Linked DNA regions of Homo sapiens. The protein of the gene in region 6 interacts with the protein of the main gene of each other region in a pairwise test. Each region holds a gene or a part of one and is shown on either strand. Other genes may lie near its edges. The genes, in order: SCML2, ZCCHC17, HNRNPCL2, UBTD2, TRIM38, RNF4 and DDX39A.

Region 1 (4,221 bases), on a different chromosome or scaffold from region 6:
AAAACCAACGAACCTGAGGCTCCAAATGGCAAATGCTGCATATGGTCATTAACCAGTAATTTGATAGAAAATTATATTGTAGAGCACTAGTATAAAGGATTTGCTAGCTCAGATTGTAGCCCATTCAGACACAAATGGTAATAGAATATTTTAAAAATTTGTGTTATGGAGATGAATTAAGTATTTTCTAATATTACTGAAAAATTTTACAAATGTCATTGGTTTATGGAAGAGTGTTAGTTCTTTGGGTATTCATTTCCTGCTTGTTATTTCTGACTTACACTATTTTCCTCCAGGGTGTCAACTTCTTAATGACATCCATCCATCCCAACTAAATGTTTTGTTTTGTTCTTTTTTTGTTGTTGTTGTTGAGACGGAGTCTCCCCCTGGTTGCCCAGGCTGGAGTGCAGTGGCGCGATCTTGGCTCACTGCAACCTTCGCCTCCACCTTCCGGGTTCAAGCGATTCTCCTGCCTCAGCCTCCCAAGTAGCTGGGAGGCACCCGCCACGATGCCCAGCAATTTTTTTTTTTTTAGTAGAAACGGGGTTTCGCCATGTTGGCCAGGCTGGTCTGGAACTCCTGACCTCAGGTGATCTGCCCACCTCGGCCTCCCAAGTGCTGGGATTACAGGAGTGAGCCACTGCGCCTCGCCCGTTTTGTTCTTTTTTAATGCTCTCCAAGATCATATGGTAGTAGAGCTTCACTTAGAATCTGTAGTGCTAGGGGGCAATCACTGAAACATCTGGTCTGTTTAATTTTGAAGCCGTGGATTTCGGTTTTCACTTTTGACAAAGCTATTCTGTATTAATAAATTTGAGCACAACTATGACTTCTAGTTTTATAACGTGCCATTTATTGAGTGACTTACATATATGCTACTTTATTTAGCTCTCAACATATCTAGTACCATGTACATTACTTTTCCCGTTTTATAAATGAAGGAACTGAGGCTAAGAAAGTGAATGACTTGCTCAGGGTCACATAGCTAGTAAGAGGTAGAGCCATACTGGAAGTAGGCAGATCTGACTCTAAAGCCCACATTCTTTTTTTTTTTTTTTTTTGAGATGGAGTCTTGTTCTGTTGCCCAGGCTGGAGTGCAGTGGTGCGATCTTGGCTCACTGCAACTTCCACCTCCCGAGTTCAAGCAATTCTGCTGCCTCAGCCTCCCAAGTAGTTGGGAATTACAGGTGCCCACCACCACATCCGGCTAATTTTTGTGTTTTTAGTAGAGATGGTGTTTCACCATGTTGGCCAGGTTGGTCTTGAACTCCTGACCTCAGGTGATCTGTTCACCTCAGCCTCCCAAAGTGCTGGGATTACAGAGCCACCGCACCTGGCCCTAAAGCCCACATTCTTAACACTCTCTCTGATGCATGATTTTCAATGCTGGTAGTGCTTGCTTCACATCATCTGGAAGTGGAATCAAACCCAGTATTTTCTTTTAGATGAAACGGTCTCTTAGATCTATTAACCAAAAGCAAGGTGCAAAATGTTACATGTGACATGCTTAATACCACATATAATATGTATACATACATATAGAAATGCATACACACATATGTAATGGTGGTACACTGGAGCTGGCTCACACCGGCTTGGGAGAGCCAATTGTGTACATCTTTTCCCAATTTCATGGTTGGTGGTTTTACCTTGGCACCTTACAGTCAACCATGGTGGTCATATTTACATCACGGAAATCTGCAAACGCTGTCAGTCAGGTTTTTTGTTGTATTTTCCAGAAAGCTGGTTGTTAAACATTATCAGCACTCTGTAGGTTTTTTTGTTTTTTGTTTTCTGCAAGGGGGGAGTCATCTAAGTATAATATCTTTTGAAGGAAATGTAAGAAGCTGGTAAACGTAGATTCTTCCAGGAAAGAGAACTGTCAAACCCAATATTTTTATAGTGAGGAAATTTAGCAAGAGTATAGAAAAGCCTCATGAATGATGAGAATTAAACATCATGTGAATTACTAGTTTGTTCACTACTACTGTCAAGTCTTTTTCTCAGTGTCTTGACAGTCTGGCTGGCACAGTGAAATGATACGTTCAAGCCAGGCAATGTGCTCTGCTTTCTGATCTTCTCTTCTAACATTATAATATGTCATGAAAACTAAGTGAGGAAGGACAGCAAGAGTCTGTAGAAAATGTAGGTCATTAAAATAATCCATATTAGTGACTGTACTGATGACTGGTTTATTGCTTTGTTCTGCCACCATCTTCTTGACACTCTGAATAGAGATCTAATAGTCCATTGAGAAACTACTCTGGTTACCACATTTTTTTCTTTCCATAAAGCATTGCAAGGGTAAAATTCTGTTTGACTGCACACTAAACCTTTAGCTCCCCATGAATAACAAAGAAGTGCCTTCACATTAATGGAATAAAGTGGTGAAAACATATTTATTGAATAAATTTATATTAGAGACAGATGGGTAGACTTCGCTATTACTCTAAAACAATTTCTTTAGTTATTTCTAACGTCCACATTTTTAGAATCACTGTGCTGTAGTCCACATTACAATGAGAGTATCTAGGTTATAATTTATTTCTGAGCCATTATTATCAGGATATCGTCTTATTTTTTATTTTTATGCTGGTCATGAAATGTAGATCAGGATTTTTGAATCTACTCTTTTGGAAGTTTTTTTTTTTTTTCTTTTAAGAGGCATGGAACTAAAACCCATTTTAATCCTGAAAGTTGTATATACTAAAAGTTACATTGTATATGCTTTAAGAAACTATTTTGCACATGTGTTTTTTCCAGATGATTTCCACTGGGAGGAGTATTTGAAAGAGACTGGGTCTATAAGTGCTCCTTCAGAGTGCTTCCGTCAGGTATGCCAAGATTCTGTAGCTGTTAGTTAATGTAAACTATTAACTTGTTGGAGGACGTCTGTGTGATTGTTAGATTCTGGTAGTGTGAGGAGATAGTGGGATTGTGGTAGTGCCTCTTAAGAGCCAGATGGTCTCTTTGCATTCATTAAGAACTTACTCTATGTCAGGTATAATAAGCTTTATGATTGCCCATCTGGCAGGAAAGGCAGACATATAAATAAATAATTATGAGAAGTGTGATAACTCCATACTGGAAGGGCTCACAGGAGCGATGCTATTTGAGATGGTTGGAATGGGAGGAAGGATAGTCCAGGCAGAGAGAACATCCAAAGCCAAGGCACATGGGCATGAAAGAATCTGAGTATTAAGGGATGGCTTGGGGTGGCTGGAGCACAAAGTGGATAGAGGCGATAATGTGGAAATGAGGTTAAAGGTGTGGGGGCATTTAAACTGTGCTGAGGAGTTGGACTTCATTATAGGCAGTGGTGAGCTGCTGGTTGGCTAATTTCAAGGGGAATGGTCTAATCAGATTCTTACTTTAGAAAGCCACTCGGTATATTTTAGAGGCTGTATTTGGGTTGCCTGGAAGTGGGCAGATGAGTGAGAACAGCAGCGGGTAGTGTTTTTATGCTGCATGTCAAGCCAAGGAGAGAATTTTGAAGATCTTTTCCTTGACTCTTACAGCTCTGACCTCACTCATCATCCACTGTGACTGTTATTTAAAATGTTCCTCAGGTATTCTGGTGACATAGCTGTCCATGTGTCTTCTCTTATAGTTGATGCATTTTAACCAAATTTTATTTATATATATAGTCTCAGATTCCACCTGTGAATGATTTCAAAGTTGGTATGAAATTGGAAGCCCGTGACCCTCGCAATGCCACTTCAGTATGTATTGCTACGGTTATTGGAATTACTGGGGCCAGGTTACGGTTACGACTGGATGGTAGTGACAACAGAAATGATTTTTGGAGGCTTGTCGATTCCCCAGACATACAACCTGTTGGGACATGTGAAAAGGAAGGAGACTTACTTCAACCTCCACTAGGTAAGAAGAAAGTTTTAAAAATAGCGTATTCTTTCTAATGTGATATTCAATAGAAATGGCTTTAAGTGGCCTTTTAAAATTTATTTTCTTGGGCATTCTTGCAAATAGATGGTCAGGTGGTTGCTGTGGAGAATGTATGATGAGAGAGGAAATCAGCACCATCTGTTGTGGAGTTTTGCTTAAGTACATATTTGGCATATGTGTGTAGAAGTTTTCTCCACTCCAGGGCAAGACTCATGCTAGGTCTTCAAACTTGAAATGTCAAAACCAGCTCTACTAGATTACATATGCAGATTCAGAACTCCTTCTGGGGAAGAACTTTGTAGCGTTTGATACAAG
Region 2 (4,221 bases), on a different chromosome or scaffold from region 6:
ACCATAATTGACCTAATTGTTATCCTTTGTTGTTTCTAAATTTTCCTGTCTTAAAAATACATTGAATATTTTGATGTAAATCACTTTTCCTGAAGCATATAGTTTTTCCTATGTATAAAGTTATTTTCTTAGGACAGGTTCCCAGAAGCAATTAGGGGTCAAATAAAGTATTAGAACTCTTGGTTGCAAGGGGCAGAAACTTAATTGGGAAACATTTTGGCCAATCTTGTCAGGGGCTTCCAGGATAACTCTCAGTTATGTTTCTCAGTTATGTTTCTGCCCCTTGTCTCTTTCCTCTATTGCTGGGACTTCAGCCTTTGCTGTATTGGGTGCTCAGTTTATACTCCCAGGGCTTTGCTTCTTGTTTACCAGTGCTCTTCTTTGCTTTTCTCTGGCAGACTCTTGCCATCTGGTGGTAAAGATTGGCTTTGGCAATTTTTTGTAGTTTACAATCCTGATTTGTATATGTAAAATGTAATAAGCAAGGTGGTTCTCCCAAGGAAAGGATTTTGGACAGACAGGAAAAGGATGTTTGCTATAAGTGTTTTATTAAATGTTATTAAAATATTATTTGATTTATTTTTGAGACAAAGTCTCGCTCTGTCACCTAGGCTGGAGTGCAGTGGTGCCATCACAGCTTACTGTAGCCTTGACTTCCTGGGCTCAAGCCATCCTCCCACCTCAGCCTCCTGAGTATCTAGGACTACAAGCATGCACCACCACATCCTATTAATTTTTCTGTAATTTTTCTAGAGATGGGGTCTCACTGTATTGCCCAGGCTAGTCTTGAATACCTGGGCTCAAGCAGTCCTCCCAAAGTGCTGGGATTACAGGCCTGAGCTTCCATGCCCAGCAATTATTTCATTTTAAATTATTTTTATTAAATGTGTAATAGTTTATTAGTATTTTATCATTCTTGATAGCCATTGATAGTGACTTCCAAAAGTTTATTCTAGCCTTAGTAATAGTTCTTATTTTACTATCCTTTCACCACATTGAATATTATTTTCTAAATACTTTGCTAATTTAATGGATTAAAAATAGTAGCTTGTTTATATTTCCTTTTTTAACTTAACGTCTATCATAAATATTTTTTGTAATTAATTTAAATGGCTGTTTACTTTTTTATTCCACAGATTTACTATGTTTGCCATGCTGTTTTCCAGTTATTGTTCATTAGGGTTGTTTTATGGTTCTTATATATTTTTTAACCTCTGTAGGTAATAATACCGCAAGTTATTTATGTATTTATGTATGTATGTATGTATTTATTTATTTGTGAGATGGGGGTCTTGCTCTGTCACCCAGGCTGGAGTGCAGTGGCGCAATCTCAGCTCACTCCAACCTCTGCCTCCTGGGCTCAAGCAGTGCTCCCACCTCAGCCTCTTGAGTAGCTGGGATCACAGGTTTGCACCACCACGCCCAGGTAATTTTTGTATTTTTGGTAGAGATGGGGTTTTATCATGTTGCCCAGGCTAGACTGCAAGTTATTTCAGCTCTGTAAGTTTTTTGGCTCTTGTGAGTTTTTCCTTTGAAAAAATTCTATTGATGATATTCTTGCATCAAAGATAAACATCTTTATCTTTTTGCTTTCAAATAATTTTACCAACTTATATTTCTATCAGTATTGTGTAACTACAGATATTTTATCACATCTTTACTAATATGGAGCATTACATTTTTTAAATTTTTTGTTTTTTATTTTTAAAATAAGATTTACAATATTTAAAAAATAGAGATGGGGTCTCGTTATGTTGACCAGGCTGGTCTCAAACTCCTTGCCTCAAGGTATTCTCCCATCTTGGCCTTGCAAAGTGTTGGGATTACAGGCGTGAGCCACTGTGCCTGGCCTATTTTATTTACTTATTTTTTTGAACCAAGGTCTCACTCTGTCACCTGGGCTGGAGTGCAGTGGTGCAGTTGCAGCTCACTGCAGTTTCAGCCTCCTGGGCTCATGCGATCCTCCCATCTCAGCCTCCTAAGTAGCTAGAGCTACAGACACGTGCCACCATGCCTGGCCAGGTTTTTTTTTTTTTGTATTTTTTGTAGAGACTGGGTTTTGGCATGTTTCCCAGGCTGGTCTTGAACTCCTGAGCTCAGGCAATCTGCCCGCCTCAGCCTTCCAAAGTTCTGGGATTACAGGCATGAGCCACTGTGCCCGGCCACTTTGAGCATTATTTTAAGAATGTTTGTTGGTTGATTGGGTATAAAAAGCAGTCTCAATTTGCAGTTTTAAGTTTCACGCTTTTCAGTAAAAATTTTCATTTTTCCCTTGCATTCCCCAACTCTTACCTTCTTATCCAGTTTAGAGTATAAATACCAGATATGCCCTCTGCTTTACGTTATTTCTTCTTCTTGTGCCCAGGTCTGGTCCATCGAACTCATATGTCATCCTGTCGGGTGGATAAGCCCTCTGAGATAGTAGATGTTGGAGATAAAGTGTGGGTGAAGCTTATTGGCCGAGAGGTAAAGTTCTGTGCGGCTCCCTTGTGGTTAGAAAGGATTAGGAAGAGCTGGGATTTTTGATATTTTATGATAGTGAGTGTGTAAATTTTGTTAATTGTGCTGATAATCTTATTTTTAAATCCTGCCATTAGAATCTATTCTGAATTCAAACCTTCTGGTAGACTGTCCTGCAAACTCAGAAGGAATGATATGAGCTATAAAAGTGTGGTGCAATAAGTGCACGTTTGTAAAACTTCCCTCCCTGAAGTTTACCCATAGGGTGGGCCGGAGGAGAGAAAAAAGAACCAAAAAGAGAGAAGGAAAGTTGACCTATGGGACAAGTGTTTATCACAGACTTCAAAGAATACCTGCCAGATACACTTCAGTTTGGGACAAAACAAAAAGAACACAGATAGTTTACAGTCATTTTCCCTAATATCTGGCACCATGCAATGTGCAGAAAGTGAAAAAAATCTGAAGGACCCTGTTACTCACTTGAGGGTATGAGGGCTGTGGGTGTGGGCCGACCACAGGAGAAATAAGAGCATACACTGAGTCCTGTTCTACCAGAGACAGCACAGGAGATAGGCATGAAAGAACTATTATTCAACAATATTTAAGTGCTTAATATGTGCTAGGTTTGGGAGATATAAGAGCGAACCAGACAAAAATGATCCCAGCTATTATGGAGTTAATATAGAATATAAGTAGAGACAATTTTTCTTTCTTTTTTGAGACAGGGTCTCTCTTTGTCACCCAGGCTGGAGTACAGTGGTGCCATCACGGCTCACTGCAACCTCAGCCTCCTGGGCTCAACTGATCTTGCCACCTCAGCCTCCTGAGTATCTGGGACTACAGGCACGCACCACTAAACCTGGCCTTTTTTTTTTTTTTTTTTTTAATTTTTTTGTCAAGATGGGGTCTCACTGTGTTACTACCCAGGCTGGTTCAAACTCCTGGGCTCAAGTGATCCTCCTGCCTTTGCCTCCCCAAGTGCTGGAATTACAGGCATGAATTTCCATGCCTGACCAAGACAAATATACATAAAATAATTGCAAGTTATATTAAGTGCTATATTGGGTTCAAACACTATTGGAAGAAGATTTCTAGTTGTCAGGAAAGGACTCTTTGAGGAGATAGAATATGAGCTGAGACCTTAAAGAAAAGGAACTAGTCATGGAAGACTTGGGATAGGAACATTCCAGGCAGAGAGAATAACTGATGCAAAGACCCTGAAGTGAAGAAGTGCTTCATGTGCTGCGGGAAGCAAAAGAAGACCAATGTGACAAATGTCTTCATGCTTAAAGAAGCTCTAGACCAAGTCCAGAAGGAGATCTAGTCTCTTGAAGTATTCAAAAACCTATTCTGGACTTAGGGATATCTCAACAAATCACTATGCTGAACTTACCTGGAAGAAAAACTTTTATTTTCTGCCTGGTTACTTCCACAAGCCATGGATTTTTTGAGCTACCATTTTTGTCTTTCCCTCAGAGGGACAAGAATGAGATTAAGACTGTTTCCTAAAATTCTTCTGCCACAGGGTCTACCTGTTATGCTTATTTGTATCTGCAATGTTCCTAGCACAGTACCTGGTCCATTAAAGAAGCTCAATGTTATGATGAAAACGTTGACTCTTAATTTTAGACTGGCCATCTAAATGATGTATTTAAAGTTTTTGGTGACTTTTTTTGGTCTCTTTCAGATGAAAAATGATAGAATAAAAGTATCCCTCTCCATGAAGGTTGTCAATCAAGGGACTGGGAAAGACCTTGATCC
Region 3 (3,841 bases), on a different chromosome or scaffold from region 6:
AAAGATGTGTTTATCCTGAAATGAGGAAAGCAATGGGAATAGATGTGAGATTATTTTGGGAGAAAAAGGAAGACAAAGGTTTTGAAAGGAAAAATAAGGAGGATTATACAAATTGTTTTGAAAGACTCAACCTTGGTCCTAAGAATCAAAAGTAAAGGGGCATCAGTGAAATGTTGGATAGATTCCACCTCCACCCCCTCAGTAACCCCCAACATGTTTACCAAGTCTTGGTTAACTCCCAGGATCCCATTAAAACACCCAGCTCAACCATGCCCATCCTCTACCCTCACTTCTCTTTGTAATTTTGACATGATTTTATTACAGGACCATCAGGTTCCTATGCCTGCTGCACAGTAGCTGACCAATATTCTGAGACAGCAGTGTTTGCAGCAGACAGTTTAATGATCACAGGGTGGCTAAATGAGAAGCTAGGAGGATATCCTCAAATTCATCTCCCCAAGTAGTACTGAGGGTTTCCAGTGGATCCTGGATAGCAAGGGGCTGGAAAGTTGGTGTAGAGGTAAGAGGGATGAAGTCATCAGGATGTCAAAACTGCATTCTTTGGTGAGTTGGTGCCTTGCAGAGCCCTTCAGATCAGCTGGCATCAGTAGTTTCACTGACATGCAGAACCTGAAAGAATATCTCAAATGAGAAAGTTAATGTTTTACAAGGCTTAAATTGTTGTCTGCAGGGTAGTTAAGGGGAACTGTAAGCTAAGGTCTACTTGATTTGGGGACAGTAAGCTGCCAGCAACCATGAGGAAGAAGGTCAGAGAGCAAGCTGACCTCATGGTGAATGCTGAATGCGCTGCAAGCTTGGTTTATTTTTGTTTCTCCCCCTCCCTTCTTCACTGATTAAACTTATAAAGTTTACAGGTATCATTTCAATTTCTTCCAGAGAAGACTTAACCTAAGCCCTGAGACCACTCAAGCCCTCAGTGGCACCTCTCTTCCACCAGCACGAGTGAAGAAACTGCTACCTTAGGTGATATAAAACCCACAAGACCATTCCATACATGGAGATCTTTATTCTTATTTTGTAGGGACGACTCCTCTGTGTTTATACAGCTATTTTAACTAGAAATATTTTTATAAATTTTATAATTTTGATGTGGCCAAAGATCTCCCCACAACACTACTTTCAGGTTTTATTTTTCTGTCTAATGTCTGGAACAGATCAACCCCTTCCCTGCCTCACATCAGGACTTGAAGGCGAAATAGCAGTAAAATTCCATCAGTGTTTGTGGATTTCATGAATGAATGCATTTTTTTTGACAAAATCTCCCTCTGTCGCCCAGTCAGGAGGGCAATGGTGTAATCTTGGCTCACTGCAAACTCAGCCTCCAGGGTTCAAGGGATTCTCCCACCTCAGCCGCATGAGTAACTGGACTACAGGCAGCCACCATCGTGCCTGGCTAACTTTTCTATTTTTGTAGAGACAGGGTTTCACCATGTGGGCCAGGCTGGTCTTGAACTCCTGACCTCAGGTGATCCACCTACCTTGGCCTCCCAAAGTGCTGGGATTACAAGTGTGAGCCACCTCACCTGGCCTTGAGTGAATGAATTCTTGATTTCCACTCTATCCCTAACTCTGTCAATTTCTTAATTCATAAAATGATTATGCATATGTGATATGAATGGATATCTCGTTCAATCCATTAGTCTTCGGACAGTCAAAAACCCAATCAGGATTAACTGAGTGGAGCTTCAGAAATGCAATCAGATATCGCTTTTTGATTGGAAGCTAGCAGCGGATACGTGGAGGGGCGTGGGTGGGAGTTGTGATTAGAAAGGTCAATAAAAGCTTCTAAAGACCCACAGGACAAACTCAAAGTCTTCAAGCCTGGAGTTCCTGCTTGGCTCTTCCTGAGGTCTGAGCACCTTCTAAACTACAACCAGATCTGGTAAGTCACTAATTTCTGTAAGGACACTCCCATGTGACCTACAGTCAGCCGGTCTAGAACGGTGACAGTGCAGCCTACGATGGCATAGAACTATATCATGTCTTTTTTTCTTTTTTTCATATGAACACTTTGAAGCTTTGATTTTTTTTTCTAAATGCAATTTTGTCGTGATTTCAAAAATGTTGTTGTGCTTTTCTTTACATCATTTCAGAATTCTTGTTGGCAGCCATTTTGTGAAGAGACGAAGACTGAGCTGTTTTGGCTGCATTTCTGGCCTCGAGCCGCAGTCAGTTTCTCCCCGTAGAACCCGGCAGTAGGAGACTTAGAATCGAATCTCTTCTCCCTCCCGCCTCCTGTTTTTGGCTTTTTGAGAAACCTTATCATCCAACACAATGGCCAGCAACGTTACCAACAAGATGGATCCTCACTCCGTGAACTCCCGTGTGTTCATTGGGAATCTCAACACTCTTGTTGTCAAGAAATCTGATGTGGAGGCGATCTTTTCCAAGTATGGCAAAATTGCGGGCTGCTCTGTTCATAAGGGCTTTGCCTTCGTTCAATATGATAAGGAGAAAAATGCCCGGGCTGCTGTAGCAGGAGAGGATGGCAGAATGATTGCTAGCCAGGTTGCAGTTATTAACCTGGCTGCAGAGCCAAAAGTGAACCGAGGAAACGCAGGTGTGAAACGATCCGCAGCGGAGATGTACGGCTCCTCTTTTGACTTGGACTATGGCTTTCAACGGGATTATTATGATGGGATGTACAGTTTCCCAGCACGTGTACCTCCTCCTCCTCCCATTGCTCTGGCTGTAGTGCCCTCGAAACGCCAGCGCATATCAGGAAACACCTCACGAAGGGGCAAAAGTGGCTTCAATTCTAAGAGTGGAAAGCGGGGATCTTCCAAGTCTGGAAAGCTGAAAGGAGATGACCTTCAGGCCATTAAGCAGGAGTTGACCCAGATAAAACAGAAAGTGGATTCTCTCCTGGAAAACCTGGAAAAAATTGAAAAGGAACAGAGCAAACAAGAGGTAGAGGTGAAAAATGCTAAGTCAGAAGAGGAGCAGAGCAGTAGCTCCATGAAGAAAGATGAGACTCATGTAAAGATGGAGTCTGAGGGGGGTGCAGAAGACTCTGCTGAGGAGGGGGACCCACTGGATGATGATGATAATGAAGATCAGGGGGACAACCAGCTTCATTTGATCAAGAATAATGAAAAAGATGCTGAGGAAGGAGAGGATAACAGAGACAGCACCAATGGCCAGGATGACTCTTAAGCACATAGTGGGGTTGAGAAATCTTATCCCATTGTTTCTTTACCTAGGAGCTTGTCTAACAACAAATTTTTCACCAGATCCTCTCCCTTAGTATCTTCAGCACATGCTTACTGTTCTCCCCATCCTTGTCCTTCCCACATTCATTAATTCATATTGCCCTGCGCCTAGTCCCATTTTCACTTCCCATGACACCCCTAGTAGTTTTCCTAAGTCTTACCCTGTAATTTTTGCTTTTAATTTTGACACCTCTTTATGACTTAACAGTAAAAAGGATGTATGGTTTTTATCAACTGTCTCCAAAATAATCTCTTGTTATGCAGGGAATACAGTTCTTTTCTTTCATACATAAGTTCAGTAGTTGCTTCCCTAACTGCAAAGGCAATCTCATTGAGTTGAGTAGCTCCTGAAAGCAGCTTGGAGTTACAAGTATGTGTGTTACACCCCATATTAGTGTGCTGTGTGGGGCAGTTCAACAAAAATCTAACAATGTATTTTTGTGAATGAGAGTTGGCATGTCAAATGCATCCTCAGAAACATAATTGGTGTTATAGTCTTCAAATGTGTTTTCTAAAGTTGATACCGTGGGTTATTTTTGTGAACAGCTTGATGTTTGGGACCTTTTCCCTGAAAATAAACAACTCTTTATTAAACCAGCAATTTAAAG
Region 4 (4,221 bases), on a different chromosome or scaffold from region 6:
ATGTGAGCCACCGCACCCAGTGAGATCTGGACTTTGAATTTGGGCATGTGTGTTCTAGTACGGGGTGATTATTTTAAGCCATCCTTGTTACATCTTAGTTTCCTATCTGTCAGTAAGGTTGGATTATACAATCTAAGGTCTCTTCTACCTTTAAATTCTCAAACAGTAGAGAAGATTTGCATATTGTATTGATTGTTGGCATTTTAGGCATTTTAATTCCCATATCCCTATTTTTTTTTGGCAGTTAGTTGCTTTAGGTAAAGGGAATATATGTATTATGCATGTATGTATATATGTGTGTATATAGTGCATTCTAAATTTATGTGAAAATATTTGCAAGTGTCCTTTTAGTTTAGCACCGTCTGTTACGGAAGGGTTCTAATACTCCATTTTTCCCCTCACGCTATTGTCTTATGGAAACTGATGCTTCCAGTTTTCAACCGGTTAAAGCTGTTGCTTGAGTCATATCTTGATATTTTCACCTTATCCATGCATTATGGCCTCTTCTTTCTTCATTTGAAGCGTTCCATCATTAAATCAAGGTTTTCAAAGAGGAACCCAAAACAGGAAAACAATTATAATCATACTTAACTTCAGAATTGATTGTTTTTTACCAATGTCAAAATGAGTTTTTGGTAGAATGCTTTAAATTATGTAGTAAAAATATTTAAAATTATGTGTTATTTAGATCTGAGAAACAAGCCTTACTTGGGTTTTCTGTGTGTTAGATCTGTTTATTTGTTACAGAGTGGGAAGAAGTGTTTAAAGATTACAAGGAAAGATAAAGAGTGGGTGAATATGATTAAGAGGTTTCTGAGAAAAAGATGACTTTTGGACACGTTTTGAAGTAAATGTGGATTGATGGGGGAAAGGATATTTTCTGAAATAGATTGTGTGGTTTTTTAAGATTAGATTGCTTTATTAATTTTTTATTTCTCATATGTTAATTCATAGTGCACTAAAGATGGTTGGTTACCTGCAGTTTAAGGATAGAGAAGCAGAAATTTGGGGAATAAAAGATGTTTCCTGTCTTTAAATTCTTCACTGTTAGAGCATGGTACCTAGTCCTATATGCTATGTATGATTACCAAGCATCTCTCTTTTGGTATCAGCAGTCAGAAGATGTGTGAAGCAGATAAAACTGAAAGTTTAAGAGCATAAAATGAAATCTAGTTGAGTATGTATATATTCTACATCTTACAAAAATGTTTGGCTTGGTACAAACATGAGGTACTTAGCTGCCAGGCTGATAATCTATGTCCAACTACTGCATTTTCAGAAATACAGGTTTGTGGCACCACCTGAACTCAAAGGATAAGATTTGGTGAACAAATGCCTAGCAAGTGTACTCTGATAAGGCACAGGAAGTGCATGACAATCAGGGACATTTCTTTAACATTTAAGGAAGGGATTGGGAAGTTATGAAAAGAAGAAAGACAGCCTGTATATTTTTGCCAAAGGACTTAAAGATGTTATTTCATATAGTACCTCTAAGTTCATTTTTACTTATTTAGCAAACATTTATTTGCAGTTTTATTGTATATCATGCATTATTATGAGTGGTTTATGAATATGAACTTAAGTCCTCTTAACAAACCTAAATATTTTCATGTTTTCACGAGAGGATAGTTCAAATGCTTTTGCTAAATGCTAATTTTTTTCCCAGTTATTTATTTAACAAAGGTTAGTCATTTAGTTTAACATGAAGCTTCAAGCCTCAGATTTTGTAGTGAAAATTCTGCACTGCTCTGTGGTTTCACTAAAGTAATTATGTTACAAAGATTTAATCATTTTTTAACAGTGGACATTCTATAGACAGATATTCTATATTATGTTTATAATACAGGCAGAAATAGGCAAATAAAAGTAATCTTCCTTCATGTCACAAATTACCGTGAAACTTTTGACAGCATGTAGATTTGAAAATGCATTGGGGGCCTGTCGCAGTGGCTCATGCCTGTAATTCCAGCACTTTGGGAGGCTGAGGCGGGCGGATCATGAAGTCAAGAAATTGAAACTATCCTGGCCAATATGGTGAAACCCCGTCTCTACTAAAAATACAAAAATTAGCTGGGCATGGTGGCGCGGGCCTGTAGTCCCAGCTACTCGAGAGGCTGAGGCAGGAGAATCGCTTGAACCCAGGAGGCGGAGGTTGCAGTGAGTCGGGTTGCACCAGTGCACTCCAGCCTTGGCGACAGAGCAAGACTCTGTCTCAAGTATATGAATAAAATTTAAAAATTAAAGAAAATGCATTTGGAATGATTTTCCTTAAGCAACATAAACGCATCATCTGTTCTTTTTGTGGGACTTTGTTCATCTATGCTTAGTACAAACGGAGAGAGGTGAAATGAACCTACCTCACATTTGTAAGGAAGGTGTTTTACAATTTTTCCAAGGTACTTTGTACCCTTATTATGATTGTTTTTCTGTTGGCTTCCTCTTTTCAAAGTCCTCTTCCTTTCATTTGCTTTAGTTTTAGGTCCTGAGATTCTTCTGTAGAGGTTTTGTTGTTTTTGTCCATGCTTTGTAATTCTCTCAGAATGACAGGAAAAATTATACTGAGTTATCTCTCATGCATTTAATACATATGAGGCCAGATAATTCTGTAGAAATACTCAGACCCAAAACTTTATTCAGATAAATATCTTACTGAGTCTACCTGCTTACTGTGCCATCTTCCACTTCCTGGTCAGTAAGCTGAGTGTTGTCTGTAAACTGTCTCTAACTCATCTAAATGATAATGTAGCAGAAAATAAAATCAACCTTGCATTCCATCGTGTTGGTGCAATCAGTGGGTTGTGGTTATCAGACCAGATTCTGAACATCTTCTAGAGAATTATGCTCTAGCTGCATTGTCTGTATTATTTGGAAGAGGTAGGGAAAAATCATTAGTATAGACTGTGTTTCTCGCATTTGAATTAAATGTAATAGGCACATCTGTAGTGTTACTCCCAGTAGACACTCAGTACATATTTGTTGATTAAATAAAGAGACTTGGATTCTGTTTCCAGCTCTGCTACTAAATGGATGGGTTTCCTATTCTGCTTCCTCACCCTTTCAGAACTCACCTGTTTTGCATTTCACTAGGACAAGTTAGAGGGCAAAAAGTATTTGAGTTAATGCTGAGTGTTTTAAGTGGAAAACAGCTAGTCTTTTGGTGTGCCACCCTGAGGGGAGAGGACAGAAGAGACCTGACCTGGCAGTCTTTATTGAGAATATAGCCTGGAGAGTAGAGATAGCCCAGGGTCTGGAGTCATTTTATTTTCTGTTTTGCATAGTCCAAATTTCATCTGGCCCTGGGCCAATGAGGGAGTAGTCAATTTCATGGATGCTTTAGAACCAGTTTGAGAGTGATTTCTTTAAAATTGGTATTCTTTCTGCAATTAAATATAGAACATTGAATTTTGACACACACCCTCTCTCCTTCCCACTCGCTGTGTCATTTATTTCCCACCCACTCTTTTCCAACACTCTTCTTATCTTTTCATCCAGCTTCAATTTTCTTTCTATCTTCTATCCCATCTATCAAACTATTCCCTATCTATAGCACTGTATAATCTTACAGAGCCATAAATAAGAATGGCTCTGTAGGTCAGTATGACCCATGGAAATAGATCACAGATAATACACCAGATGGTTATCTGGGTGCAAGGATGCTGCATCAGGCTTATTCCAGCGCTACTACTACATAACATTGTCTAAGGGGAGATGCTGCCACTTGCCCTCTGTTTTCTTCTTCTCTTGGGTTGAAACTAGGGTAGGGTATCATAGTTCTTCTGCTCCTTGTGGTTCGGAGCTAATCCCTTGGCCTAGCATCAAAGATTATCTCTTTTACTCCCAGTTCCTCAAAAAAACTAAAGTACTGATTCTACCCTTTGTAAATTAGTTCCTGTTTGAGTTCCAGAGAAAGGTATTTACAGTTCCTTGACTAAAGTCCAGAGAGTAGAATGCTAGAGGAAGCATTCCTCTAATCAGTTTGTTCATGATTCTGGTGGTTTGGCTCTTCTTTCTCTGGGCACTGAAAAGCAATCTTTTACCTCTTTGGATTTTCTCAGTTCCTACTTCCTGGTTTCATGTGTCCAAGCTACTATTGCCGTTTGCTTCCCCAAGTATCTTGCCTCTCTTTCGTGGTGTCTCTTGACTCTCATATCCTGCTCTTACAGTCTGATGAAACACTTACCTTCTAGGCAGTTCTTTTAAAATGAACAAAACAAAACTTTC
Region 5 (4,221 bases), on a different chromosome or scaffold from region 6:
CGAAGTAAAGCTTGGAAACATTGCACATAGTATGAAGTTCCAAGGAGACAGCCTCTGATGTTTCCAGCTTCACAGCCCAACTCCTAGAATAAGCAGAGGCGAGAGATTTCTTCAGAGGTGCATTCCATTCATTTCTATATACGCACACCCCTCCCCTCCTGCATTCAAACAGGACTTACCTGCTCAAAGTGTCATTCACATTCTATAAAGAAACAAAAAGAAAAGGTGAGCATGGGAACATCGGTATTTCATGGGGCTTGTCATGCAGGGCTATTCTTCTTTGCTTTACCCGAAGAAGTAAAGAGAGTTACCCTAGTCTTAGTCTTAGATATTGATGGATACTCAAACAAAGTAATTCCCACCAGTCTTAGGTATTGATGGATACCCAGATGGAATAATTCCTACCAGCTTCTGGGAGATTCAGCATGGCAGGATGTTTATCAACATTTGCATCTATTCTCATCCTTGCTGAAGTCTGAGGGCCAGGAGCTTTGTCCATGCTCCCTCTGTAAGGACTAGCTTTTGGTGATCGGATTTCCTTCACAGTGAGCCCAGATTAGAGAACACTTATCATAAAGGTCCTTAGTGGTGAATCTGTGCACAGCCCTGAGACTGGGCCACTGCCACTAAGATGGTGGTAGCAGGTATCACACAGTGGTAAAGCAATCATGCTATACACTCAGCCTTACAGTATAGTCACCAATCCTGTTAGTTAGAACCAGAATTAATGGCTCCAGATGTTTATCTTCCTACAGATAAAGCTGTAGATTGTACCATAACAGCTCTGGAGCAAGGGTTCTACAAGCAAATCAGGGAAAAGGTTATCACTCATTTTGGCTGCCCCACTTCATCACCCATCAGTCACCTAGTGGAGTATTTCAGGAGAGAGTCAACAACCAGGGTTCTCTGCACATGGGCCAAGGAGGCAAACAGTGGTAAATGTTATCCCGTGGTTTCATTTGGCCAAGCTGTGTTCCCTCAGAAGTTTATTTTTCTAATTGACATAAAGGTACCCTATAAATTAGTGAAGGCCAGCCTGATGGCACTGATGTACATCTAAAAGAAACATTACTTTATCTTCCCATGCTTCCTTACCATTCTCCTTTAATAGCACTATAACATACCTTTTTTCCCTACTCCAAGTACACAGCCTCACCTGCAGCAATTTCTGGGCTGAGCCCTGACATTTTTCCTCCAGTTCCAGGATGTGGCTCTTGAGTTCATTGCTCTTCAGCCCCAGACCAGCCTCATAGTCCCTCAGTCTACTCAGAGTCTGTTGTTCTTCTTTCTCCAGCCTCCAGAGATAAGACTTCTCTTCCTCATGTAGGAAACACTGGAGATTCTTAAAGTCAGACCGGATTTTTTGTCTCTGAATCTGTACCTTCTCCTGGAGTCAAGAAAGTATGGTCAAAAGGTGGAAGTAAACCAAATGTCCATCTATGGATGAATGGATAAACAAGAATGAAAGTCTGACACACGCTACTACATGACAAGCCTTGAAGACATTCAAGCAAAATAAGCCAGAAACAAAAGGGCAAATATTGTAAGACTTTGCTTATACAAGGCATCTGGAGTAGTTAAGTTCATAGAGACAGAAAGTAAAATAGTGGTTACAAGGTGTTGGCAAGACCAGAAAATGGACAGTTATTGTTTAATGGGTAGTGAGTTTCAGTTTAGAAGATGAAAGATGAAACTGAGTTGCAGTTTGGAGATGGGAATGGTGATGGTTGCACAACAATGTAACAATGTAAAAGCACTTAATTCTACTGAACTATATACTTAAAAGTGGTTAAATGCTTAAGTGTTATATATATTTTCACACAAACACACACACACACACAATCAGCCACTGGGACATTATTTTCTCATGAGTCACTGAAGCTGGAAGAATGTCCCCAGTTTCCTGCTGCAGAGTCATGTGTGGGAGGCAGGCACTCAGATGTGGAAGAGGTTGCCTCAGATTCCTTATAGTCACCCAATTAATTTTCTTGTTCTTCAGCCAAGACACAGGAGAAAGCTGGGTTAGGAGTGCTAGATAATTTAATTGTGAAACTAGGGCCAAGTTCAAACACTTTATCAGTTACAAGGATAAAAAGAGGTTTTTACTTATGATTTAAGAAGTTAGATTTCTGAGTTGGAGCGATTTTCTTGAAGTAAAAGCTTATAATGAACATCACCCAGACTGGATTTTAAGACAACCAGGCTGGTAAGAGGGTCCATAATTCTTGGCAGGGGGAGCTTTGAGTGTGACAGGCATTTATTATGGTTAACTGAGAAATACTGTTCTACTACCCTAGGGTCATCTTAAGCATTCCTATGTGTAAGACTGACAGAAATCAAGTGAAACTCTCATCTGAGGAGATGTAAAGTTGCAATTTCCATTAGTGCTGTCTAAATTAATGCAGTGGGAGTGTGTATTCAGGGCAATTTGAATCTATGTTCTTGGATTGCAGTCTTCAAACTTGGCCCAAATAAACTCTCTACTTATCTTAAAAAAATAAAAATTAAAAAATAAAAATAAATTCATACAGTGTTTTGATGACTATGATATAGAAGAAGGGTCTTTGACTTAGGATGAGGTGGAATTTTTGTGTAGGAGACAGGTGCAGCTTTAACTCTTGTATAGACGGGTTTTCATATATGTTAGTTACAATCAAGGTCTTCCCCATTGCCCAAGATCCTAGAAATGGGGGAAGTAAGAGTGTACTCAGGAGCTCAAGAGCAACATCCACAAACAAAGATCAGGGTAGAGGTTAGAGAGGACTCCTGAAAGAGAGAAAATTGGTAATCAGCTTGTGGGATTTTACTGCAAGCTAGTGAATTATATAAATATAAAGATTGGTGCAAAAGTAATTGTGGTTTTTGCCTTTACTTTAATGGCAAAGACCGCAATTACTTTTGCACAAACCTAAATATTTCCATAAAAGAATGTGGCTCTGATAATGTGGAGGTTAGTCAGCCACGGAAATAATCTGAAAGTTTGTAGTTGCAAGTGTGTAGGTTGTTGCATTACTTGTGATGTACTTATAAATCAAGTATAGGCCGGGTGCAGTGGCTCACGCCTGTAATCCCAGCACTTTGGGAGGCTGAGGTGGGTGAATCACGAGGTCAGGAGATCAAGACCATCCTGGCCAACATGGTGAAACCCCGTCTCTACTAAAATACAAAAAATTAGCCAGGCATGGTAGCACATGCCTGTAATCCCAGCTACTCAAGAGGCTGAGGCAGGGGAATTGCTTGAACCCGGGAGGTGGACATTGCAGTGAGCTGAGATCGCACCACTACACTCCAGCAAGACTCCATCTCAAAAAATAGTAATAATTTAAAAATAAATAAATAAATAAAGTATATTTCTTTCATCAGCTTCATGAGCTAGAGTAGTATGAATTTCAATCTGGAGTGATCCTGTTTTCTAAGTGTTCACAAAGCTTGGTTTCTGTACCTGTAAAGTTGAGAGCCAGATGCTCCACTGTGGTAAAAGTGCCAGGGTAATGAGTTGAGGCCTGCAAACCAGGTTTATTTTGACGTATTTAAAGTTTGAGACCCACTCGATGCTTTTTCTAGGTAAATAGTCATACTAATTCTGCTTCTTCTGACTGAAGTATCAGGAATCCCAGCCAACTACAGTTTAAAGATGGAAAGATTGGTGCTAAATACTCATGGATGTAAACCTGGAACCAGGGGCATAAGTACAAATAATGGTTTCTTCCTTGGGTTTCATTTTTTCAATCTGGTTTAGTGAGAATAAATCCTCATTGTGCTTTTCCTCAATCATCCCCTATGCCTAAGCTCTAGAATGGAAAATAGCTTGAGATCAATGAAGTCAGATTCTTACTTTCCATTTAGTTATTCGCATTGCTGTGGACAGCTTCTGCTCCGTACATCTGTCTTCAAGTTGCTTCAGTTTTGTCACAGCTTTCTGGAGCTTTTCCTGAAGGAAAAATTTGATAAGTGAAGCCTATTCAATTTGACTCTTCATTAGGGACCTAGGGGGAATCCCAATCTTCTAAGATATATTTGAATAATAGTGAATATTTATAGAGTCCTCATTGTTTTTTGCTAGAGAGCATGCTAAAGGCTATATGTGCAGGAACATACTGATCCCCTTGGCAACCCTGAATAGTTGGTAGGATTTTAAACTTCATTTCTGTGCTGTAGAAAATGAGACTAAGAAAGGGGTAAAATAACTTGCCCAAAGGGCTATGACTGCCAGGTGGTGGA
Region 6 (4,221 bases):
TTGACCAGGCTGGTCTTGAACTCCTGGCCTCAAGTGATATACCTGACTCAGCCTCCCAAAGTGCTAGGATTACAGACGTGAGCCACCATGTCCGGCCTCCTTGGTTGCTTTTTAACAGCAAATAATCTTTTTTTTTTTTCCAAGTTGTGTGCTTTCTCCAAATTTGTTTTTTTTCTTCTTCTTCTTCTTTTTTTTTCCCTTGAAACAGGGTCTCACTTTGTTACCCAGGCTGGAGTGCAGTGGTGCCATCACGGCTCACTGCAGCCTGTACCTTCTGGGCTCAATTGAGCTTCCTGCCTCAGCCTCCTAAGTAGCTGGGACTATAGGGGTATGTCACCATCCCTGGCTGATTTTTTATATTTTTTTGGAGAGACAAGGTCTTACCGTATTGCCCAGGGTGGTCTCAAACTCCTGGGCTCAAGTGATCCTCCCACCTTGGTTTCCCAAAGTGCTGGGATTGTAGTTGTGAGCCACTGAGCCTGACCTTGGGTCACTTTTCATGAGCATTTTCAGTATGCCAGTCTCTGCTCTGGCTAGAAGCAATGCAGTGGTAGAAAAGAGACTGGCAACTCTCTTTAAGGAATCGAGATTCTTTAAGGGGAAGGTTATTGAAAATGTTACTTAGGCTGTTTTTCTTAAATTTCCAAAGATTGTCTCTTAGTAAGGTTGATTTTTCTGGAATCTTTTTTTGGTCTGTTTCTATAATGTATGAATAAGTCACACTATGTGTGTTTTATTCTGTATCCTGCCTGGTTTTCCATTTATGAGACTCTGTAGAAAGGATGCTTGATAAAGGCTTTTCTGGAAGGAAGGAAGGAAGAGGGAGGGAGGGAGGGAAGGAGGGAGGGACAGAACCCTGTAGATCTCTGGGTGTAAAGGACACAGGAGGCACACTGTTGGAATAAGTGAGCCAGCCCAATTCCATAGAAAGAAAGAAGAGCTCAGAAAAGCCCAAACATCATATCCAGGAATTAGCCAAGATGGGTTGGCTACTCAACTACAATGTGATTGTCCGCACCAGTCTTCCCGACTTTCCTGCCAGTGCCGCAAGTAACAGGCATCAGTAACTGCATGATGTGTGTAGCTGTTGGACATTGAGTAGCCTTTTGTGTGCACAGTGCTTGGAGATGGCTGTTTTTCCAGTGGAGCAATGTGCAGTGCTGTGAGCTGTAAAGTTGTCTAAAGCAAGTGTGTCTTGGTGCCCTTGGCTGGGTGAACATTCCTAGAAATGCCAGGGGCCAGCCTGAGTGCACGGGACCCAGTGATTCCTATACTTGCTTCTTTCATGCAGAGGTGTTCTGAGGCTCACCTGTGCTTTTAGAAGCACAAAGGGGCTTCGAGTGACCAATCAGATGTGCCTGCTGCAGGTCCACTCGTCTCTAAATGCTCTGACCTATGGACTGTTGTCCATAGTTGAGAAGAAGCTAGAGTAAAATAAAATGTATGAGTGAGTGAATCTTTTTCTTTTTTTTTTTCTTTTCTCTTTTTGAGACAGGGTGTTGCTCTGTTGCCCAGGCTGGAAGGCAGGGGCCCGAGCTCAGCTCACTGTAGCCTCAACCTCCCAGGTTGAAGAGATCCTCCTGCCTCAGCCCCAGGAGTACTGGGACTACAGGTACACACTGCCATGCCCAGCTTATTCTTTGTATTGACGGGATCTCGCCGTGTTGCCCAGGATGGTCTCGACCTCCTGAGCTCAAGTGATTCATCCCGCCTTGGCCTCCCAGGGTGCTGGGATTGCAGATATGGGACACCATGCCCAGCCGAGGAAGTGTGAATTTCTGATCTTGGGCTAGCTTACCACAGTACTAATTAAACTATTCAGTTCAGGGGATTAGTTAATTGTTGTTATTTCAGTTTTGGTTTTTCACTTATCTTAAAAGCCTCTCAAATAGATTAGAGGCCCCAGAGCTTGTGTTACACCTCTATCCATCTCTCAACTCATCTGGTAGGCATTTATGAAGCGCTGGTACTCTTCCCTCTGCACCTATCTTCTGTGCTGGGCAAGTACTGTGCCACCTGCAGGGCCATAGCTGTGATTTAGGTTCATTACAGAGTTCTTGAGATGTCTGCAGGGATTCTGGAATTTGATGTGACTCGGCCACTGGGTGGAGGGAACACCAGTAATCAATACTGTATTGTCCACCAGCTGAGAGGCCAGGCTGTGGTCGTTGGTTTTGTTTTTTTGTTTGTTTGGTTTTTGTTTTGTTTTGTTTTGTTTTTTGTTTTTGTTTTGTTTTGTTTTTGAGACGGAATTTCACTCTTGTTGCCCAGGCTGGAGTGCAGTGGTGCAATCTCGGCTCACCACAACCTCCACCTCCCAGGTTCAAGTGAGTCTCCTGCCTCAGCCTCCTGAGTAGCTGGGATTACAGACATGAGCCACCACATGCCCGGCTAATTTTGTGTTTTTAGTAGAGGCGGGGTTTCTCCATGTTGGTCAGGCTGGTCTCAAACTCCCGACCTCGGGTGATCTGCCCGCCTCTGCCTCCCAGAGTGCTGGGATTACAGGCATGATCCACTGCCCCAGGCCTTTTTTTTTTTTTTTTTTTTTTTTTAATTAAAGACAGTTTCACTATTGTCGCCTAGGCTGGAGTACAATGGATCTCAGCTCACTGCAGCCTCCACCTCCCGGGCTCAAGTGATTCTCCTGCCTCAGCATCCCAAGTAGCTGGGATTACAGGTGCCCACCACCACACCCGGCTAATTTTTGTAGTTTTAGTAGAGACAGGGTTTCACCATGTTGGCCAGGCTGGTCTCAAACTCCCGACCTCAGGTTTTCTGCCCGCCTCTGCCTCCCAAAATGCTGGGATTGCAGGCATGAGCCACCGGGCCTGTGCTTTTCTTTTTTTCTTTTTGAGACAGTTTCGCTATTGTTGTCTAGGCTGGAGTGCAATGGCGTGACCTCGGCTCACTGCCCCCTCCACCTCCTGGGTTCAAGTGATTCTCCTGCTTCAGCCTCCCAAGTAGTTGGGACTACAGCCACGCGCCACCACACCCAGCTAATTTTTGTAGTTTTAGTAGAGACAGGGTTTCACCATGTTGGTCAGGCTGGTCTCGAACTCCTGACCTCGAGTGATCCGCCCATCTCGGCCTCCCAAAGTGCTGAGATTCCAGGTGTGAGCCACCGCGCCCAGCCTGTGGTGTTGTTCTTATACTGAAGACTCATCTGGAAGCTGTTTTTCTCTCATTAAAAGCGGGGACAGTCAGAATTGTTACCAGTGAGGAAACACTCTGGCGACCCTGTTCTTATGCACCCCAGTAGTTGTGTGTGTATCACCTGCTGCTTGCCAGCAGCCCCTGGGCTCAGTGCTCAGGACAGGCCTCAGTTTGGTACCATCCACAGGCAAGCTGGGTATGACTCACAAGAGACCATAAAGACTCAGTACGCGCACTGTCATGGCTGGGGCACTGGGAGTGTCATACCCTTTCCAGGTGTCCACACCTAATTAGTGGGTCATCTTGGCAGAGGGTGGGGGCATGTTGGAGCTGTAGAAAGCTGGGGTCATTTCTAGCCACAGAAGAATTTGCTTTTGCTCCCAGCTAAACCCAAGGCTTTCCCCAAGGGCCAGCACTGTTACCAGAGCCTCCTTTTCTAGATTTCATGCGGACAGTACATTGTGCCGGCCCTGGTAAGTTTGGTCCTGATGGTGAGGTTGACTGATTGTCCCCAGATTTCCCTTTTCACCGTCTGCAGTCTCCTCTAAGAGGAAAGGGGAGCACGTTTCAGTGGCTCCACGTATGTGGATTATATTCTCATCCTCAAATCAAAGACCTTTATACTCAGTCCTGCATTCTTCCTGCATGGCCGTTTGTGTATGTCAGGATGCCATTTGGGAAACAAAATCCACTCTAATTATTCCTAAGCTTAGTGGATTTTAACATGGAAGGAGAAGCCTAAATCAGCAGTGTCTGGGCTGGGTCTCCAGGAATAACTCTTGACCTCGAAGCATTGACCCACCTAGGGAGCTGCTGTGTCTGCTCCATGAAGAAGGTCTGGAGGCGGCATCCACCCCCTGCACTCATATCTTTGGGTTCGTGTAGACAGTACTGCAGACCCTTTCTAGGGAGGAGAGGCCTGGGCTCAAGACATAGCAGCCTCTGCCAGAAGTGTTTCTTCAGGATGCAGCTGTGCCTGCCAGTGCCAACACCCTCAGCAGCTCAAATCGGCCTCCATCCCCTGCCCTGCCAGTAGCATGAGTGTGTCTGTTTGAGGGAACTCGGTTC
Region 7 (4,221 bases), on a different chromosome or scaffold from region 6:
GGTCAGATAAAGAGACATGTTCAACTCTGCCTGAACGCCTTTATTCTAGTTCCATTTATTCAGCCATTGCTATGGAGTGCTTATTAGCTGTTCTCACAGGGCAGGGCTGACTGGAAGCGGTGCTGTTTTAGTTGGGGCTGTGAGGAAATGCCTTTCTGGAGCAAAGGAGGCCCAAAAGAAGTGGGGGATTTGTGACCCTTCCAGGCAGCAGGAACAGCAAGTGCAAAGGTGCTGAGGTGTGTTTGAGACACGGCAGCAAGGCTGGCGAGTGAGGGGCAATGGGGGAGATGAGGTATGAGTATAGAGGAGTCGGGTTAGGAGGGGCCCGGTAGGCTGGCTTTGTGAGGACTCGAGTTTTTTTCTAAGCACAGTAGGAACCCATTAAAAGTTTTGAGCAGAATAGTGATGTACTCTTAGGTTTGTTTTTTTTTTTGAGACAGAGTCTTGGTCTTGCTCTGTCGCCCAGGCTGGAGGGCCATGGTGTGATCTCGGCTCTCTGCAACCTCTGCCTCCTAGGTTCAAGTGATTCTCCTGCCTCCAAGTAGCTGGGATTACAGGTACCCGCCACCACACCCGGCACATTTTTGGTATTTTTAGTAGAGATGGGGTTTCACCATGTTGGTCAGGCTGGTCCTGGACTCCTGACCTCAGGTGGTCCGCCCGCCTAGGCCTCCCAAAGTGCTGGGATTACAGGTGTGAGCCACCGCGCCTGGCCGTGACTTAGTTTGATAGGGTCTTTCTGGCTGCTCTGGGGAGGGGCTGGGGGATGGCAACAGGGAAACCAGGGAGGAGGATATTGGCTTAATTCAGGCAAGAGATGATGGCACCTACATGTCCAGCTGACAGTGGTTAAGCAAAATGTAGTATGTTGGTGAGATGGAACATTAGGTGACCATGGAAAGAAATGAGGCCAGGTGTGGTGGCTCACACCTGTAATCCCAGCACTTTGGAAGGCTGAGGTGGGCGGATCGCCTGAGCCCACAAGTTGGAGATCAGCTTGGGCAACATGGTGAAACCCCATCTCTGTTACAAATACAAAAATTAGTGGTGGCGGGCGCATGTAGCTCCTGCTACTAGGGAGGCTGAGGTGGGAAGATCGCTTGATTGAGCCCGGGAGGCAGAGGTTGAAGTGAGCTTTGATTGGGCCACTGCACTCCAGCCTGGGCAACAGAGCAAGACCTTGTCTCAAAGAGGGGGGAAAAAAAAGGAAGGGAGTACTGATGATGTGGTAGAGCACACTGTGCTGAGTGAAAGAAGCCAGACACAAAATGTCACAAATTATAAGATTTCATTTATGTGAAATGTCCACAACAACAGGCAAATCCATAGAAACAGAAAGCAGATTAGTGGTTGCCCGGGGCTGGGGTGGGGTGTTTAGGGTATGGATACGTAAAGGGTACAGGAGCTTTTATTTCAAGGTGATGAAGTATTCTAAAATTGCACATGTGGTAGTGGTTGCACATGTCTGTGACTACACTAAAAACCACTGAATTATCTGCCTTAAGTGGTGAGTTGTATAGCATGTAAATATCTCTGTGAAGCTTTTCTTTTTTTTTTTTTTTTTTTTTAGGCTGGAGTGAAGCGTGATTTCAGCCCATCACAACCTCCGCCTCCCAGGTTTAAGCAATTTTTCTGCCTCAGCTTCCCGAGTAGCTGGGATTATAGGCGCCTGCCACCATGCCTGGCTAAATTTTTGTATTTTTAGTAGAGTTGGGGTTTCACCATGTTGGTCAGGCTGGTCTCGAACTCCTGACTTCAGGTGACCCACCCGCCTTGGTCTCTCAAAAGTGCTGGGATTACAGGCGTGAGCCACCGCGCGCAGCCTGTAAAGCTGTTCTAGTTAAAAATAATAATAAGGCCAGGCGCGGTGGCTCACACCTGTAATCCCAGCACTTTAGGAGGCTGAGGTGGGTAGATCATGAGGTCAGGAGTTTGAGACCAGCCTGACCAACATGGTGAAACCCTGTCTCTACGAAAACTACAAAAATTAGCTGGGCATGGTGGCAAGCACCTGTAATCCCAGATACTCAGGAGGCTGAGGCAGGAGAATCTTGAACCCTGGAGGTGGAGGTTGCAGTGAGCCGAGGTTGCGCCACTGCACTGCAGCCTGGGTGACAGCAAGACTTCATCTCAATAATAATAATAATAATAATAATAATAATAATAATAATAATAATAAAACAGGTGATAGCAGCTTGGGGCCAGCATGGTAGCATAGGTGAGAACTGGCCAGAGGGCCTTGGTGGGATTCACTGCCTCATGGACAGGGAGGTTGAGAGAGAGAAAACAGCCATTGAGACAATGGAATTGCTGTTTCTGAGCCGGGAATGAGTGACAGCGAGGCCAAAAGTGGCCTAGGATCCTCAGCATCCAGCCTCAGGAAGAATTGTAGCAGCTGTCACCCTCTGCTCCACCCCCCACTGGAGTCTGGGGTAGGGGAGGAGGACGAAAGACAATTGTCCTCATGTTTGGGTCCCTTGCACCCAGCAGGCACTTGGTATGCATTAGATTAATAAAGCAAAGAGGTAGGCAGACTTTGTATTAATTCCATTTTCCATCTTCTCAGCTTTATTTTTATTGGCCCAGGCCCAATAGGAGGCCTTTCATGAGAGCACTTAATTATTCCCCTGTGCAGACCACAGAGAGTGGGAGAAGCTGGGGCTGGACAGATACTGCTTGCTCTCTCGCAAACTCAGTTCCCACCAGCATCCTGGCAGCCCCACCCCTGGGATCTTTGGGCTCCTGCCCCATGAAAGCCCAGTGGGTTCCTTGGGGAGTGATAGGGAGGGGGCTTCTCTGGGCTGAGTAGTCTGAGGAGGTTCACTGGAGCTGAGGCTTGCGTGTGGAGAAGGAGGCATTTGTGCAGAGACCTGGGGGCAGAGCATTCCTGGCGGTGACAGCCAGGTTCAAAGGCTTGGGGCAGGGGCTCCAGGGGTCTGAGCAGCTGAACAAGGCTGGGGGTGGTGTGGGATGAGGTGAGCAGGGGTCAAACCAAGGGGATTGCCTGGCCTGTGGTGAGAGTTGGGATTTTAACTCTGTGAGCCATGGGAAGCCCTTGGAGGTGGAGGGTGTTCTGTCTGTGGGTGTGGCCAGAGGGGCATGGGGGAGAGATGGGGTAGCTTGGGGGTGGGGAGGTGGAGACAGGGCGAAGCTGCGAGGTGCAGCCCAGGTAGAGCTGATGGGCTCACTCATGGAAGGAGGCGGCAGAGAATGCCATTTGAATGAAGCTTCATCATCCTTCTGTGCCCACTCGCGGGACCCTGCCTCTCTCTCTTCTCAGCATCATGGCAGAACAGGATGTGGAAAACGATCTTTTGGATTACGATGAAGAGGAAGAGCCCCAGGCTCCTCAAGAGAGCACACCAGCTCCCCCTAAGAAAGACATCAAGGGATCCTACGTTTCCATCCACAGCTCTGGCTTCCGGGACTTTCTGCTGAAGCCGGAGCTCCTGCGGGCCATCGTGGACTGTGGCTTTGAGCATCCTTCTGAGGGTACGCCTTCTGGGTGTTATCCTCTTGCCCAGGTCCTCACCAAGACAAGACCAGCCCTGCCCGCCCAGAGCGGTGCCGCCTCCAGTTTGCCGTGGGTGAGGGAGGGGCCCGTCTGTCCCGCGGATCAGTTGTGCCCAGCGGGGCCTGTGGCTGCCCTCGGCAGTGGGGCGTTCTGCTTTGACCAGGCGGATACCCCAGCCCTGCAGGTGTCTGTGGCCTTGTCCGGACTCGGCCTCTTCTGATTGCCCTCACTGTGGGCCCCCGGTCAACTGGTGAGGATCCTGCACGGGGGTGCATCCAGGTTCTCGTCCCTCACGCTCTGCTTCTCCTGCAGTCCAGCATGAGTGCATTCCCCAGGCCATCCTGGGCATGGACGTCCTGTGCCAGGCCAAGTCCGGGATGGGCAAGACAGCGGTCTTCGTGCTGGCCACCCTACAGCAGATTGAGCCTGTCAACGGACAGGTGGGTGGGCTCCTCCCTTCCTGGCCCCACCCTGCCTGTGGCGGCGGAAGTAGAGTAGGCTGGATGGGGTGGCTCACACCTGTTAGCCCAGTGCTTTGGGAAGCTGAGGCTGGAGGATTGCTTGAGCCCAGGAAGTCGAGGCTGCAGTGTGCTATGATCACACCACTGCACTCCAGCCTGGGTGGCAGAGGTAGACTCCATCTCAAAAAATAATTAGTTATAACAAAAATTAGAAATTGCCAATAAGCCAAAATAACTGGAAAGTGC

What was found.
Region 1: the proteins of RNF4 (region 6) and SCML2 interact in binary tests that used the Homo sapiens proteins (3 or more experiments, as listed by UniProt).
Region 2: the proteins of RNF4 (region 6) and ZCCHC17 interact in binary tests that used the Homo sapiens proteins (3 or more experiments, as listed by UniProt).
Region 3: the proteins of RNF4 (region 6) and HNRNPCL2 interact in binary tests that used the Homo sapiens proteins (3 or more experiments, as listed by UniProt).
Region 4: the proteins of RNF4 (region 6) and UBTD2 interact in binary tests that used the Homo sapiens proteins (3 or more experiments, as listed by UniProt).
Region 5: the proteins of RNF4 (region 6) and TRIM38 interact in binary tests that used the Homo sapiens proteins (3 or more experiments, as listed by UniProt).
Region 7: the proteins of RNF4 (region 6) and DDX39A interact in binary tests that used the Homo sapiens proteins (3 or more experiments, as listed by UniProt).

The regions. Positions count from the first base shown.
Region 1 is NC_000023.11:18,323,520-18,327,740, reverse strand, and holds part of SCML2 (sex comb on midleg-like protein 2), read left to right. Parts: intron 1-2,763; coding exon 2,764-2,834; intron 2,835-3,647; coding exon 3,648-3,882; intron 3,883-4,221. UniProt on the Homo sapiens protein: Putative Polycomb group (PcG) protein. PcG proteins act by forming multiprotein complexes, which are required to maintain the transcriptionally repressive state of homeotic genes throughout development.
Region 2 is NC_000001.11:31,334,810-31,339,030, forward strand, and holds part of ZCCHC17 (zinc finger CCHC domain-containing protein 17), read left to right. Parts: intron 1-2,365; coding exon 2,366-2,466; intron 2,467-4,147; coding exon 4,148-4,221.
Region 3 is NC_000001.11:13,114,855-13,118,695, reverse strand, and holds HNRNPCL2 (heterogeneous nuclear ribonucleoprotein C-like 2), read left to right. Parts: upstream 1-1,841; 5' UTR 1,842-1,903; intron 1,904-2,114; 5' UTR 2,115-2,295; coding exon 2,296-3,177; 3' UTR 3,178-3,208; downstream 3,209-3,841.
Region 4 is NC_000005.10:172,235,106-172,239,326, reverse strand, and holds part of UBTD2 (ubiquitin domain-containing protein 2), read left to right. Parts: intron 1-4,221.
Region 5 is NC_000006.12:25,969,035-25,973,255, reverse strand, and holds part of TRIM38 (E3 ubiquitin-protein ligase TRIM38), read right to left. Parts: intron 3,932-4,221; coding exon 3,836-3,931; intron 1,388-3,835; coding exon 1,157-1,387; intron 203-1,156; coding exon 180-202; intron 84-179; coding exon 1-83. UniProt on the Homo sapiens protein: E3 ubiquitin-protein and E3 SUMO-protein ligase that acts as a regulator of innate immunity. Acts as a negative regulator of type I interferon IFN-beta production by catalyzing 'Lys-48'-linked polyubiquitination of AZI2/NAP1, leading to its degradation.
Region 6 is NC_000004.12:2,506,385-2,510,605, forward strand, and holds part of RNF4 (E3 ubiquitin-protein ligase RNF4), read left to right. Parts: intron 1-4,221. UniProt on the Homo sapiens protein: E3 ubiquitin-protein ligase which binds polysumoylated chains covalently attached to proteins and mediates 'Lys-6'-, 'Lys-11'-, 'Lys-48'- and 'Lys-63'-linked polyubiquitination of those substrates and their subsequent targeting to the proteasome for degradation.
Region 7 is NC_000019.10:14,412,284-14,416,504, reverse strand, and holds part of DDX39A (ATP-dependent RNA helicase DDX39A), read left to right. Parts: intron 1-3,280; 5' UTR 3,281-3,284; coding exon 3,285-3,492; intron 3,493-3,826; coding exon 3,827-3,954; intron 3,955-4,221. UniProt on the Homo sapiens protein: Helicase that plays an essential role in mRNA export and is involved in multiple steps in RNA metabolism including alternative splicing. Regulates nuclear mRNA export to the cytoplasm through association with ECD.